Homo sapiens: one gene and its partner. The protein of the gene in region 1 interacts with the protein of each later gene in a pairwise test. Each region holds a gene or a part of one and is shown in the gene's direction. Other genes may lie near its edges.

Evidence for each region.
Region 2: the proteins of EYA4 (region 1) and AATK interact in a two-hybrid assay, tested with the Homo sapiens proteins (one study listed by BioGRID and IntAct).

What each region holds. Positions count from the first base shown.
Region 1 is NC_000006.12:133,244,068-133,251,357, forward strand, and holds part of EYA4 (protein phosphatase EYA4), read left to right. Parts: intron 1-7,290. UniProt on the Homo sapiens protein: Tyrosine phosphatase that specifically dephosphorylates 'Tyr-142' of histone H2AX (H2AXY142ph). 'Tyr-142' phosphorylation of histone H2AX plays a central role in DNA repair and acts as a mark that distinguishes between apoptotic and repair responses to genotoxic stress.
Region 2 is NC_000017.11:81,116,795-81,121,511, reverse strand, and holds the end of AATK (serine/threonine-protein kinase LMTK1), read left to right. Parts: coding exon 1-1,311; intron 1,312-1,428; coding exon 1,429-1,576; intron 1,577-1,931; coding exon 1,932-2,132; intron 2,133-3,069; coding exon 3,070-3,110; 3' UTR 3,111-4,217; downstream 4,218-4,717. UniProt on the Homo sapiens protein: May be involved in neuronal differentiation.

The sequences.
Region 1 (7,290 bases):
GCAACATAATTAGATTTGTTGAAAATGTCTCCTTTCTCTGATTATTAGTGATATGTACTTGTCTTTCATAATAAGTAAAGGTCTACAATCAATATGGTTTTCAAAAGCCTGTTTTCCTTTGTAAATTTCCTGAAAATAGTATGTTTCAATATTTAAAGACCATTGTAACTACCGGTTGGTTCACAATTATAACTAAAATAAGATTTACTCAGTTGTTTTCTTTTTATTAGTATTTGTTGAATATTTGAAATTGAATTTCTCATTTCCAAAATAAAACGTCTCACATATATGTATGTACTCACAATTAACACTTCTTTTAAGTAGTAGGCTTAAGTTTTAAAATTTTTAAAATCTTAAGATTTGTATAAAAAGGAGTGATTGTATAAAAAGGAATAATAATTATTAATTGTTAAGAAAAATAGATGCTGAATTTCAGAGGGTTTCTAGAAGCTGGAGAAAAAAATTGCATAGAAGTTTCTTTTTTGACGGGTGACTGGCAGATGAGTTACTTGTCATTTTGCTATAATTTATTTTTTTCTTTTAATAAGGCTCTTTGGGTTAAAAAAAAAAAAGGAAAAACAAGTACTCCATTTCTAAGAGTTTCCTTTTTATTTATGTTGTACTTTGGGGTGTAAATAAATTTTACATAGCCACGGGAAATAGAGTATCCAATTTCATGTTTTCAGTCTCTGTTGCAAGCTCTAAATGACTGATGTCGTGTCTAAAAATATATTTATATGGCTTGATATTTCATTTTAACATTTTATGCACTGGAATTAGATTTTTTAGGATTTTTAGAAAGATAGAATGACAGAAAGACGATGACTATTGTTATAAAAAGTTAGAATGTTAGGAAGTTCACATTCTAACTTTCAAATAATCAAACTTATTTTGCCCCACAAAAACTCACAGTTTTTATACAGATTTCAAGAAGAGGGGTGATAATCTTTTTCACTACTTAGTTAAGTGTTAAGTAATTTAAGAATGCAAGTATGTATTATGCTTTCTCATTATCATTTTTTTCTGTTAGGTAAATGCAAGAACACTGGACATTCTGTAAAAACAGGCCCCTCTTTATAAGGAGTTTATTCACCATAGTTCTGTATTGCAGCTGCTGATCATATTTCATGGAGCTGTTAAAGCACTTAAAACCTAAAATTAGGTACTGTCTGGTTGTAAATATTTCAGATCACTTATTTAAGAAATAAATAGAAAAGTGTGCTATCAAAAGTAGGAGACGTTTTGAATCCTCTCATTGAAGAGCTGAACAAACCTCTATCAAAACACCTTCTTCTTTTTTCAGTGAGAATATAATCTTGACAGTTTCTTTTTCTAAATGGATATTATTCTTACATGTACTAAATGCTAAACTCTTATAACGTGCCTCCCTGTAGAGTATCTTAAACTAATTATATTCAGAAATACAGTTGGGGGATTTTATTACAATGGTTACTAGGTGAAGGAAATCAACACCAGGGGAATGGGGTGGCATTGCAGTGTACCTGCTTCTCTCATGAATTTTTCCTGCTAAACTAAGAAATGACATGCTGTTTCAGGCATTTGCCCTGGAGATGGGTGAGATGCAATATGTGTAATGCTGCATCTTATAGTTAGATGTGTTTTAATGAAGGGGACACTGCATAGTCATTAAATCATTTTTGGAGCCAAACTTGGCGTCATTTAGCTTGAACTTAAGTGGAAGAAAATGAACAAGAGTTACACATTCAAAAGAAGTACAAGCAACTTTGATTGCTTTTAAGAGGTTTGAAGACTTTGTAAACATTACTGTCACTCAATATTGCTTGTGGAGCTGTACATTAATATATGCTTTGGTGATATGTCATTTTACGCTTGAAATTTGTCATTCTTAGTGTTTCTCCATCCATCTTTTTATTAGTAAAGAGATACTGAAAATGAACACTACTATTCTTACTCCCCTAACCCCTTTCACACCTCCAGAAAAAGAGATGAAACTGATTAATTTAAAATAGAAACCATTTTGTGTTATCAAAACCACATTTATATAGTGATTTGAGACAGTTTCAGAGAGTGCACCTCTGAGTCTCACTGTAACCTTTTTTGTCATTGAAAGGTGCTAATTGATCTTAGGGTACTGACACAATAGTATAGTTTGATATTTGAAACCTTTCAGAGTTGGTCTGGCCCTTTTCTTACCCTGAGATTTCAGTGCATGGATGATGAAGAAAGACACCATTCTAAAATACCAGAAATTCTCATTTTTTTCCAATATGAAATGTTTTAATACAGTATGTTCATATTTTTAAAGCTTTTATTTACATACAGTAAGTAAATTTATTTTAACGTACTTTTGGACAGTAGGAGAAAGACCTATATGTTCTATCGTGTTAGAATTTTTTAGTTTTTTTTTTTCTGCACAGGTAGTTTATTTAGGTTATAATTTTTAGGCAAAGTCTGATTCCTATTATCACATGAATATTTTCAAAGTGAAATTGCGTTAAACCAATGTGGAATAGCTTTTGTATCACCAAGGCATATATTAATGTAGATGTCAAATATGAGAGCATATTTTCTTGAGTATATTTATATCCTAAAGTGTATTTTTAAATAAAAGTGGTCACTGTAGTCTTTAGATAATTACAATTTGGCTGTCATTATTACTATAATATTAATCACTATCACCATCATAACATCATAGCTAGCATTTACTCAGGAATTTCGTGCAAAACACTGTTTTAAGCATTTATATGGATTAGCTAATTTTAATCTTCTTAACTATGCCGTAAATTAGGTACTTTTGTTATTCCTATTTTACAGATAAGGAAGCTGAGACCCAGTCATGCAGCACAGTGGAGCCAGGATCCTAACTCCCCAGTATGAGGCCAGCACCCTTATCCTTAAGCGTGTGCTGGGCTCTTGCTTCCATCAGTCATATACCACCATTTTTAGGTGGTACCTGAACATTTTGTTTTAATAATACTTATATTTTATGTAAGGATAACTAGATATTAGAAAAATTTGTTAAATTTTGTATTAAACCTGTAACTTCATGGGCAATATTGTTTGAGACAAGACCAAACAAAGTATTGAAGTCAAAGAAAAAAAATTAAGTATCTGAAGAAACGTATTAAGTAACAGTGAACAAGAATATGGCCTAAATAACCACAGTCATGAAGGCTGGACAGCAAATGACTGAATTTGGAGAAATGCTGTATTTTGTAATGTTTCCCAATTATCAAGAACTTATGACCAGATCTTTTAAATATTTAACTAACATGTGGAATCTTCCTTTGCTCTTCAAGCCTTATCCAAATTGGTTAAATGTTATCAACTTTGTATTTTCTTTGTTTTTGTTTTTTGTTGTTTTAATGCTGGTTTTGAATCTCAAATCTGCACATTTATGTTGAACCAACTAATAAGGCTTGAAGAGTTAAAGAGTGCATGATGGACTTCTGGAGGCAGGTTTAAATTATAATGGAGCTGCCCATATTTTGGAAATACATTCAATTTATCTGGTTATCGCATGTGTAAGGTTTTCTGTAGGTAAATACTTTTGCTGTTAATAACCTGTTTTACAATTTTATAGTATTTTTCCACTGAAGCAGTGGTTTTCATTTTTTTATTTACTTATATACTCAGCCACGGATCCTTTCATTTAAATGGAAACTGATGATATGCCCAGTAGAGAAATGTGCCACTGCTCTAGGTGAAGCAGGATGTAGGTAGCCTGAGAATGACTCACCAACAGTACCCTCTCACGGTGGCCGCCGCCTCTGGAGTTCTCTCTAAGTGTCTTCAATGTATGGAAACTGCTGCAAAAAAATTCAAGTCTTCTGACAAAAGGGGTTAATTCAGAGTACCTGCCCTAACATGTTCATGTGGCATCACTAAAAAACAGACTGTCAGATACGGTAAAATATCTCCCAGTGTGACATATCAGCAGAAAGGTGTGTCTACTCTCCCTTCTATAACTTGAGTATCCGTATTAACCAGTCTTCAAATTCGATTTAGCACTGAGAAAATTAAAACTGATCAAAATGTTCCCTGTGTGTAGTTACAGGTCTGAATGAGGCACAAAGGACTTGTACCTGCAAAGGTTGACTTTATTAATTAGAACATCTTTCCTCCTTTAAAGACTGTAAGAAGAAACACCAGCAGTGGCCTAACTTGACATGACTTTAGATTTTCACGTAAATTATTGCTACTATTTCTGTTATCCTTTCCCCCTTTCTTTTTAAAATGAAAGGGACATTTCTTGTGAAAGACTACAATTAAATCATAAAAATTTACATTCATGTGCCATTAAGTTTAATTCTACTCACAAAAGCAACAGTACAGAGTTTGAAATTCTATCCCTAATCAAGTAGGTGTACCACATACCGGGAGGGCTCATTATGCACAAGGTCATATATACAATTCACAGACCTCTGCATATACCCAACGGAGTGATCTATTCATTACATTTCACCTCTGACTTTGAACTCCCTAATGTTAAAAGATTTGAAAAGAACCGAATGTTCTGATTAAGAGATTGAATATTTCTAACTTAATGTTTTCAGTATGTTGAAAGTGATGATGACTTGGGGGAATCAGCAGATCTCTACATTACCTAATTCTTTTCTCTTACATTTGAATGCAAATGTATATTCATGTGCGGTTATGACTCAAGTCATTCTTGCTAAATTTAATGACGTTGTAGGTGAATCACATTCAGATTTCCTTTTGCAGGTTTTCCAGTAATCTAAAACAATGCTTCTAGTAGGTAACTTAAGCATGCAAACCTCAATAAACCTGTCAAGAACGGCAATTCTACTGTTTTATTTTGTTTTTTTTTTTGTTTGTTTGTTTTTGCATTAACTTTAGTTGATAAGATGATGGTACTGTTATTTTTCTTAGTTGACTCATGAAGAATTTTAATTTAGGTCTAGTTTTTTCCCTTAATTGTTGACTTTAGTTTTTAAAGGTTTCGTTCATGAAAATGGTTAGCAAAGTTGTGGGTACTTGGTAAATGCTTGTTAAATGCTTTTTCCTTATCAGTGTTGCTGAAGACTTGCAAAATTAGAGTGGGATGGATAGATTTCTTTTCTACTCTGCATGGCTTTGAAGACTTTGGAGCTTTTATTGTATTCTTATATTTTTACATACCATTCCCAGGAATATTTAGAGAGAGAATCATTGTAACCAAGGTCACAGGTCTAATCCTCAGGTATTCAAATTAGCTTTAGGTGGACAATTGTCCTATACACACTTGTTCGTATTAATGTTGTCATAACAAATATAGTTATAATATCTTGATGCCTCTCCTGGGGGCCCATTCTGGACTGTGTTGAAGCTGTCTCTAACACTCTCTCACGTCCCTAAGATATTCAACCACATTTGTTCATGATTTTTATGAGGTCCCTCCTGGACTTAAAATTCCTTAAAAAATTTGCCTGCTGCCTATAGGGCAAATTCCAAAATTCTCTGCAGGGAAGATAACCCTTCATACTGAGAACCTTGCTCAGGTTGCTCTTCTCATCTCTCACTCCCCACTCACAACAACTCTCTTTTCCAGCTGTATGGAAAACTGCAGTTCTCAAATACACCTTGGACATTTCCACTTCATTTCTTTGTGCGTGGAATGCTTTTTCTCTGGAAAACATCGCCCCTCTCCCCCTGCAAATATCTTTTCTACTGCTTTTTCAATACTTAAGGTGCAAAATGTTAGCTCCTCTGATAAGTTCCTCTGACCTCCAGAGTCTGAGTTGAACGTTTCTTTCTTGTTACTCCCAAAGCATCCAGCTTCTACATTTAACATAGCCCTTGCCACATTGAAATGTAATAGATTACATTAGTCTAAATCCTGCTTTAAGCTGAGAATTTACTGGAAGGATTAGCTGTATTTGTCATTTCTGTATCGCTAATGCACAGTGCACTGCTGGACATATAGTCAGTAGGTAGTTGTTATATTCCCATTGAATGAATGAGTAGAGGTACTGGGAATGAGAGCAGAGATTGTGACACTGAACATCCCCTCCTTGAGACTGGGAACAGTGAGAAGGGCAGTGACTATTACAAGGTGGGACTACCTCAATAACAACCTCAGGGAGTTTTGGTATAAACCCAGTAGAATTGCAGCTGTGAATCCAGGCTTAGGTTATATGTATGTATACGTGAATGTAGAAATGTGTTTATTTCTTACCACTGGGAAGTCAGTGATCTGGTGGATAAGCCAAGGATCCTGAAAATCTCTGGAGATACGGTAATTTCATAGTACTTGAAATCTGAGAGACTCAGTTCTTATAGCACAGTGAGTAAGTAGAAAGAATATGGGGGCTGGGCGCGGTGGCTCACACTTGTAATCCCAGCACTTTGGGAGGCCGAGGCGGATGGATCACCTGAAGTCAGGAGTTCGAGACCAGCCTGACCAAAATGGCAAAACCCCGTCTCTACTAAAAATACAAAAATTAGCTGGGCGTGGTGGTGGGCGCCTGTAATCCCAGCTACTCGGGAGGCTGAGGCAGGAGAATCACTTGAACCCAGAAGGCAGAGGTTGCAGTGAGCTGAGATTGCACCATTGCACTCCAGCCTGGACAACAGAGTGAGACTCCATCTCAAAAATAAATAAATAAATAAAAAGGAAGAAGAATATGGAGCCAGGCACTTGGGTTCAGACCTCAGCTCTAACATTGATGAGTTTGTAACATCAAACACATTACTGAAACAGATTTTGCTTCAGTTTCTCATGTGTAACAGAACATGCCTCATGGGGTTCTGATGAGAATTCAATGAGTAAATATATGTAAATATATTTAGAGTAGTGCTTGATATGAGTATCAGTTGTTATTACTATGATTGGGTATCTTTCATTAGATTACCCCCAAATGTTCCAGAGATATTTAGAGCTGAAGGTCTTTTTTGGGGGGCTATGGATTGGTGACCATAAATGGAGTGTCCAGTAGTCCAAGTATAAATTAGATACTGTGGGTCATCTTGGCAAATCTGAGGTTGTATTTGGAGCCTTAAGAGAAGACACTATAGGTGCTCAACAGTTGGCATTGGCCATTTACGTTGTGCAGTAATATTTCTTTTAGTAAATATTTCCGCATACAGTAATCTAGATTGTTTTAGAGCTTTAATCTGTGTGGTTCCTTAACTACTTTAAGCAATTATAAGCACGTTGTATAATGGTAGTACTTTATAGCCAATATTTAAGTTTCCTCAGTTGCTTTTTTTTCAGCCGTAAGGTACCAATTATGAGAATTTGTATAATTTTCAATAGTCAGTGGGCCTGATGAACTCAATGTAAACTTTTTAAAAGGTAGCTTTACA
Region 2 (4,717 bases), on another chromosome or scaffold:
CTTCCCTCGGAGGAGGCCAGTGCCCCCGACGCCCCTGATGCCCTGCCTGACTCTCCCACGCCTGCTACTGGTGGCGAGGTGTCTGCCATCAAGCTGGCTTCTGCCCTGAATGGCAGCAGCAGCTCTCCCGAGGTGGAGGCACCCAGCAGTGAGGATGAGGACACGGCCGAGGCCACCTCAGGCATCTTCACCGACACGTCCAGCGACGGCCTGCAGGCCAGGAGGCCGGATGTGGTGCCAGCCTTCCGCTCTCTGCAGAAGCAGGTGGGGACCCCCGACTCCCTGGACTCCCTGGACATCCCGTCCTCAGCCAGTGATGGTGGCTATGAGGTCTTCAGCCCGTCGGCCACTGGCCCCTCTGGAGGGCAGCCGCGAGCGCTGGACAGTGGCTATGACACCGAGAACTATGAGTCCCCTGAGTTTGTGCTCAAGGAGGCGCAGGAAGGGTGTGAGCCCCAGGCCTTTGCGGAGCTGGCCTCAGAGGGTGAGGGCCCCGGGCCCGAGACACGGCTCTCCACCTCCCTCAGTGGCCTCAACGAGAAGAATCCCTACCGAGACTCTGCCTACTTCTCAGACCTCGAGGCTGAGGCCGAGGCCACCTCAGGCCCAGAGAAGAAGTGCGGCGGGGACCGAGCCCCCGGGCCAGAGCTGGGCCTGCCGAGCACTGGGCAGCCGTCTGAGCAGGTCTGTCTCAGGCCTGGGGTTTCCGGGGAGGCACAAGGCTCTGGCCCCGGGGAGGTGCTGCCCCCACTGCTGCAGCTTGAAGGGTCCTCCCCAGAGCCCAGCACCTGCCCCTCGGGCCTGGTCCCAGAGCCTCCGGAGCCCCAAGGCCCAGCCAAGGTGCGGCCTGGGCCCAGCCCCAGCTGCTCCCAGTTTTTCCTGCTGACCCCGGTTCCGCTGAGATCAGAAGGCAACAGCTCTGAGTTCCAGGGGCCCCCAGGACTGTTGTCAGGGCCGGCCCCACAAAAGCGGATGGGGGGCCCAGGCACCCCCAGAGCCCCACTCCGCCTGGCTCTGCCCGGCCTCCCTGCGGCCTTGGAGGGCCGGCCGGAGGAGGAGGAGGAGGACAGTGAGGACAGCGACGAGTCTGACGAGGAGCTCCGCTGCTACAGCGTCCAGGAGCCTAGCGAGGACAGCGAAGAGGAGGCGCCGGCGGTGCCCGTGGTGGTGGCTGAGAGCCAGAGCGCGCGCAACCTGCGCAGCCTGCTCAAGATGCCCAGCCTGCTGTCCGAGACCTTCTGCGAGGACCTGGAACGCAAGAAGAAGGCCGTGTCCTTCTTCGACGACGTCACCGTCTACCTCTTTGACCAGGTGGGCCGCCGCCACCCGGGGTCTGCCCGGGGCTGGGGGTCGCGCTCCCGCAGGAAGGGGTGGGAGCGGCCGCGGCTCCTGGCGGCCGAGCTACCTGGTGCTCTCTGATTCCTCCAGGAAAGCCCCACCCGGGAGCTCGGGGAGCCCTTCCCGGGCGCCAAGGAATCGCCCCCTACGTTCCTTAGGGGGAGCCCCGGCTCTCCCAGCGCCCCCAACCGGCCGCAGCAGGCTGATGGCTCCCCAAATGGCTCCACAGCGGAAGAGGGTGAGCAGGGGCGGGGCTGGGCCCGTGACGTCACGGGAGGCAGGGCCTGGTCCGTGCTGTGTGGGAGGCGGGGCCTAATGTGTGACATCATGGGAGGAGCACCTGGTCCTTGACGCGTGGGAGGCGGGCTTTGGCCCGTGTCGTCATGGGAGGCGGGTCTGGTACGTGACGTCACGGAAGGCGGGGCCTTGTCCGTGCTGCATGGGAGGCGGGGCCTGGGCCCGTGACATCATGGGAGGCGGGGCCTGGGCCCGTGACATGATGGGAGGCGGGGCCTGGGCCCGTGACTGTGGGAGCGGGGCCGGGCCGGGGTCCCAGGCTGTGAGCGCGAGTGACGCCGCGACCTGGGCTGCAGGTGGTGGGTTCGCGTGGGACGACGACTTCCCGCTGATGACGGCCAAGGCAGCCTTCGCCATGGCCCTAGACCCGGCCGCACCCGCCCCGGCTGCGCCCACGCCCACGCCCGCTCCCTTCTCGCGCTTCACGGTGTCGCCCGCGCCCACGTCCCGCTTCTCCATCACGCACGTGTCTGACTCGGACGCCGAGTCCAAGAGAGGTGAGGCCTGGGCGGGGCTGTGGCAGAAGGGCACGCGGGAGGCAGGGCACGGAGCTCCGAGGGTGGGGCCCCTCCGTCTAGGTCCTGGGCCGGGCCAGCCCCGGCTCCGCTCCGCTCCGCTCCTTCCCGGCCCCGCTCCTTCCCGGCCCCAGACCTAGCCTGGACCCCGCCTGGCCCTCGCCTGGCCCTCACCTGACCCTCACCTGACCCTCACCTGACCCTCACCTGACCCTCACCTGGCCCTCACCTGGCCCCTGCACTCGGCTCTCCTCTGCCTGACCCTACCCCGCAGACCTGCGGCAGGCCCTCTCACCGGAACCTTCCCAGCCAGAAGTCCCTGCAGACCCAGGTCCCACGGTGCCCCGGCCCCACGGTGCCCAGGTGGAGCCCTGCTGGGGGCCTGAGCCACCGCTCCCGGCCATGGCCCTCCACTATCCGCCCCACCCCAGGCTGGGCTCATCTCTGCCAGGTGTCCCTACCCCTACAGCCTCTGCCCACGTGCCTGACAAGTGCCCACCTCCTCGGAGAAGGCCCCCTGCCAGCTTCCTCTTCCCTAGCTGTCCTGGCCTGTGGCTGCAGCCCTGGGGGAAGGGCCTGTCAGCCTCACCCCTGGTGCAGGGTGCCCCCTGTGTGGCTGAACAAGCAGGCAGGTCACCAGGAGGCCACTGCATGACCTTGGCCATCCCCTTCCTGTTCAGGCCTCAGTTTCCTTATGCGTAAAACAGGACTCGGAGGCATTTGCTGAGAGTTGTTGGCCTGAGTCCAGTGACAGGAGTGGGGGAAATGGGTCCATCTCTCACCTAGACACAGCCAGATCTGCTGCAGGGAAGGGGCCCGGCCTGTATGTGGGCCAGGGATGGAGGCCAGGTGGGAGTTGCGGGGGAGGCAGCCCTGGTGTCTCAGAACCCTGTGTTCACTTTGTTGTCCTGCTTGCCAGGACCTGAAGCTGGTGCCGGGGGTGAGAGTAAAGAGGCTTGAGACCTGGGCAGCTCCTGCCCCTCAAGGCTGGCGTCACCGGAGCCCCTGCCAGGCAGCAGCGAGGATGGTGACCGAGAAGGTGGGGACCACGTCCTGGTGGCTGTTGGCAGCAGATTCAGGTGCCTCTGCCCCACGCGGTGTCCTGGAGAAGCCCGTGGGATGAGAGGCCCTGGATGGTAGATCGGCCATGCTCCGCCCCAGAGGCAGAATTCGTCTGGGCTTTTAGGCTTGCTGCTAGCCCCTGGGGGCGCCTGGAGCCACAGTGGGTGTCTGTACACACATACACACTCAAAAGGGGCCAGTGCCCCTGGGCACGGCGGCCCCCACCCTCTGCCCTGCCTGCCTGGCCTCGGAGGACCCGCATGCCCCATCCGGCAGCTCCTCCGGTGTGCTCACAGGACACTTAAACCAGGACGAGGCATGGCCCCGAGACACTGGCAGGTTTGTGAGCCTCTTCCCACCCCCTGTGCCCCCACCCTTGCCTGGTTCCTGGTGGCTCAGGGCAAGGAGTGGCCCTGGGCGCCCGTGTCGGTCCTGTTTCCGCTGCCCTTATCTCAAAGTCCGTGGCTGTTTCCCCTTCACTGACTCAGCTAGACCCGTAAGCCCACCCTTCCCACAGGGAACAGGCTGCTCCCACCTGGGTCCCGCTGTGGCCACGGTGGGCAGCCCAAAAGATCAGGGGTGGAGGGGCTTCCAGGCTGTACTCCTGCCCCGTGGGCCCCGTTCTAGAGGTGCCCTTGGCAGGACCGTGCAGGCAGCTCCCCTCTGTGGGGCAGTATCTGGTCCTGTGCCCCAGCTGCCAAAGGAGAGTGGGGGCCATGCCCCGCAGTCAGTGTTGGGGGGCTCCTACCTACAGGGAGAGGGATGGTGGGGAAGGGGTGGAGCTGGGGGCAGGGCAGCACAGGGAATATTTTTGTAACTAACTAACTGCTGTGGTTGGAGCGAATGGAAGTTGGGTGATTTTAAGTTATTGTTGCCAAAGAGATGTAAAGTTTATTGTTGCTTCGCAGGGGGATTTGTTTTGTGTTTTGTTTGAGGCTTAGAACGCTGGTGCAATGTTTTCTTGTTCCTTGTTTTTTAAGAGAAATGAAGCTAAGACAAAAGAAACCTTTGTGTGTTGTCTTCTGAGGTCTGCCGATGATAAAGTCCTGGACAGGAGGGGCTGTGCCAGGAACCCGATGCCAGCCCTTCCTGGGGCCAGGAGGAAGCTGCCCCTCTCCTCTCCTCCCCACTGTCCTCGGCACACCCCGGTGGAGGGGATGGTGTTCTGGCCCTACTGTGTGTGGGGGCGCAGGGGTAGCGCCCTGCAGGTCTCCCTTCCTGCAGGCCGAGTTGGCCTGGTAGGGACGGGTGAAGAATGGACCTACAGGCCTCTCCAGGACAGCCTCCTCCCTGCCCTTCTGAGGGCAATGTCTGTCTGTCCCTGGGCCCAGGGTGGAAGGCGGAGGCAGGAGAGTTGAGCACAGCTGGGCTTCCCTGCACCCTCCGCTGGCCAGCTCTCAACTGCCCTCCTGGCCCGCCAACTCTACAGCTTCCTGTCCCCGGGGTGTGAGTGGCTGTAGGCGGGAGTGAGCTCTGCTGGAGACACCTCCCCAGCCAGGTAAGGG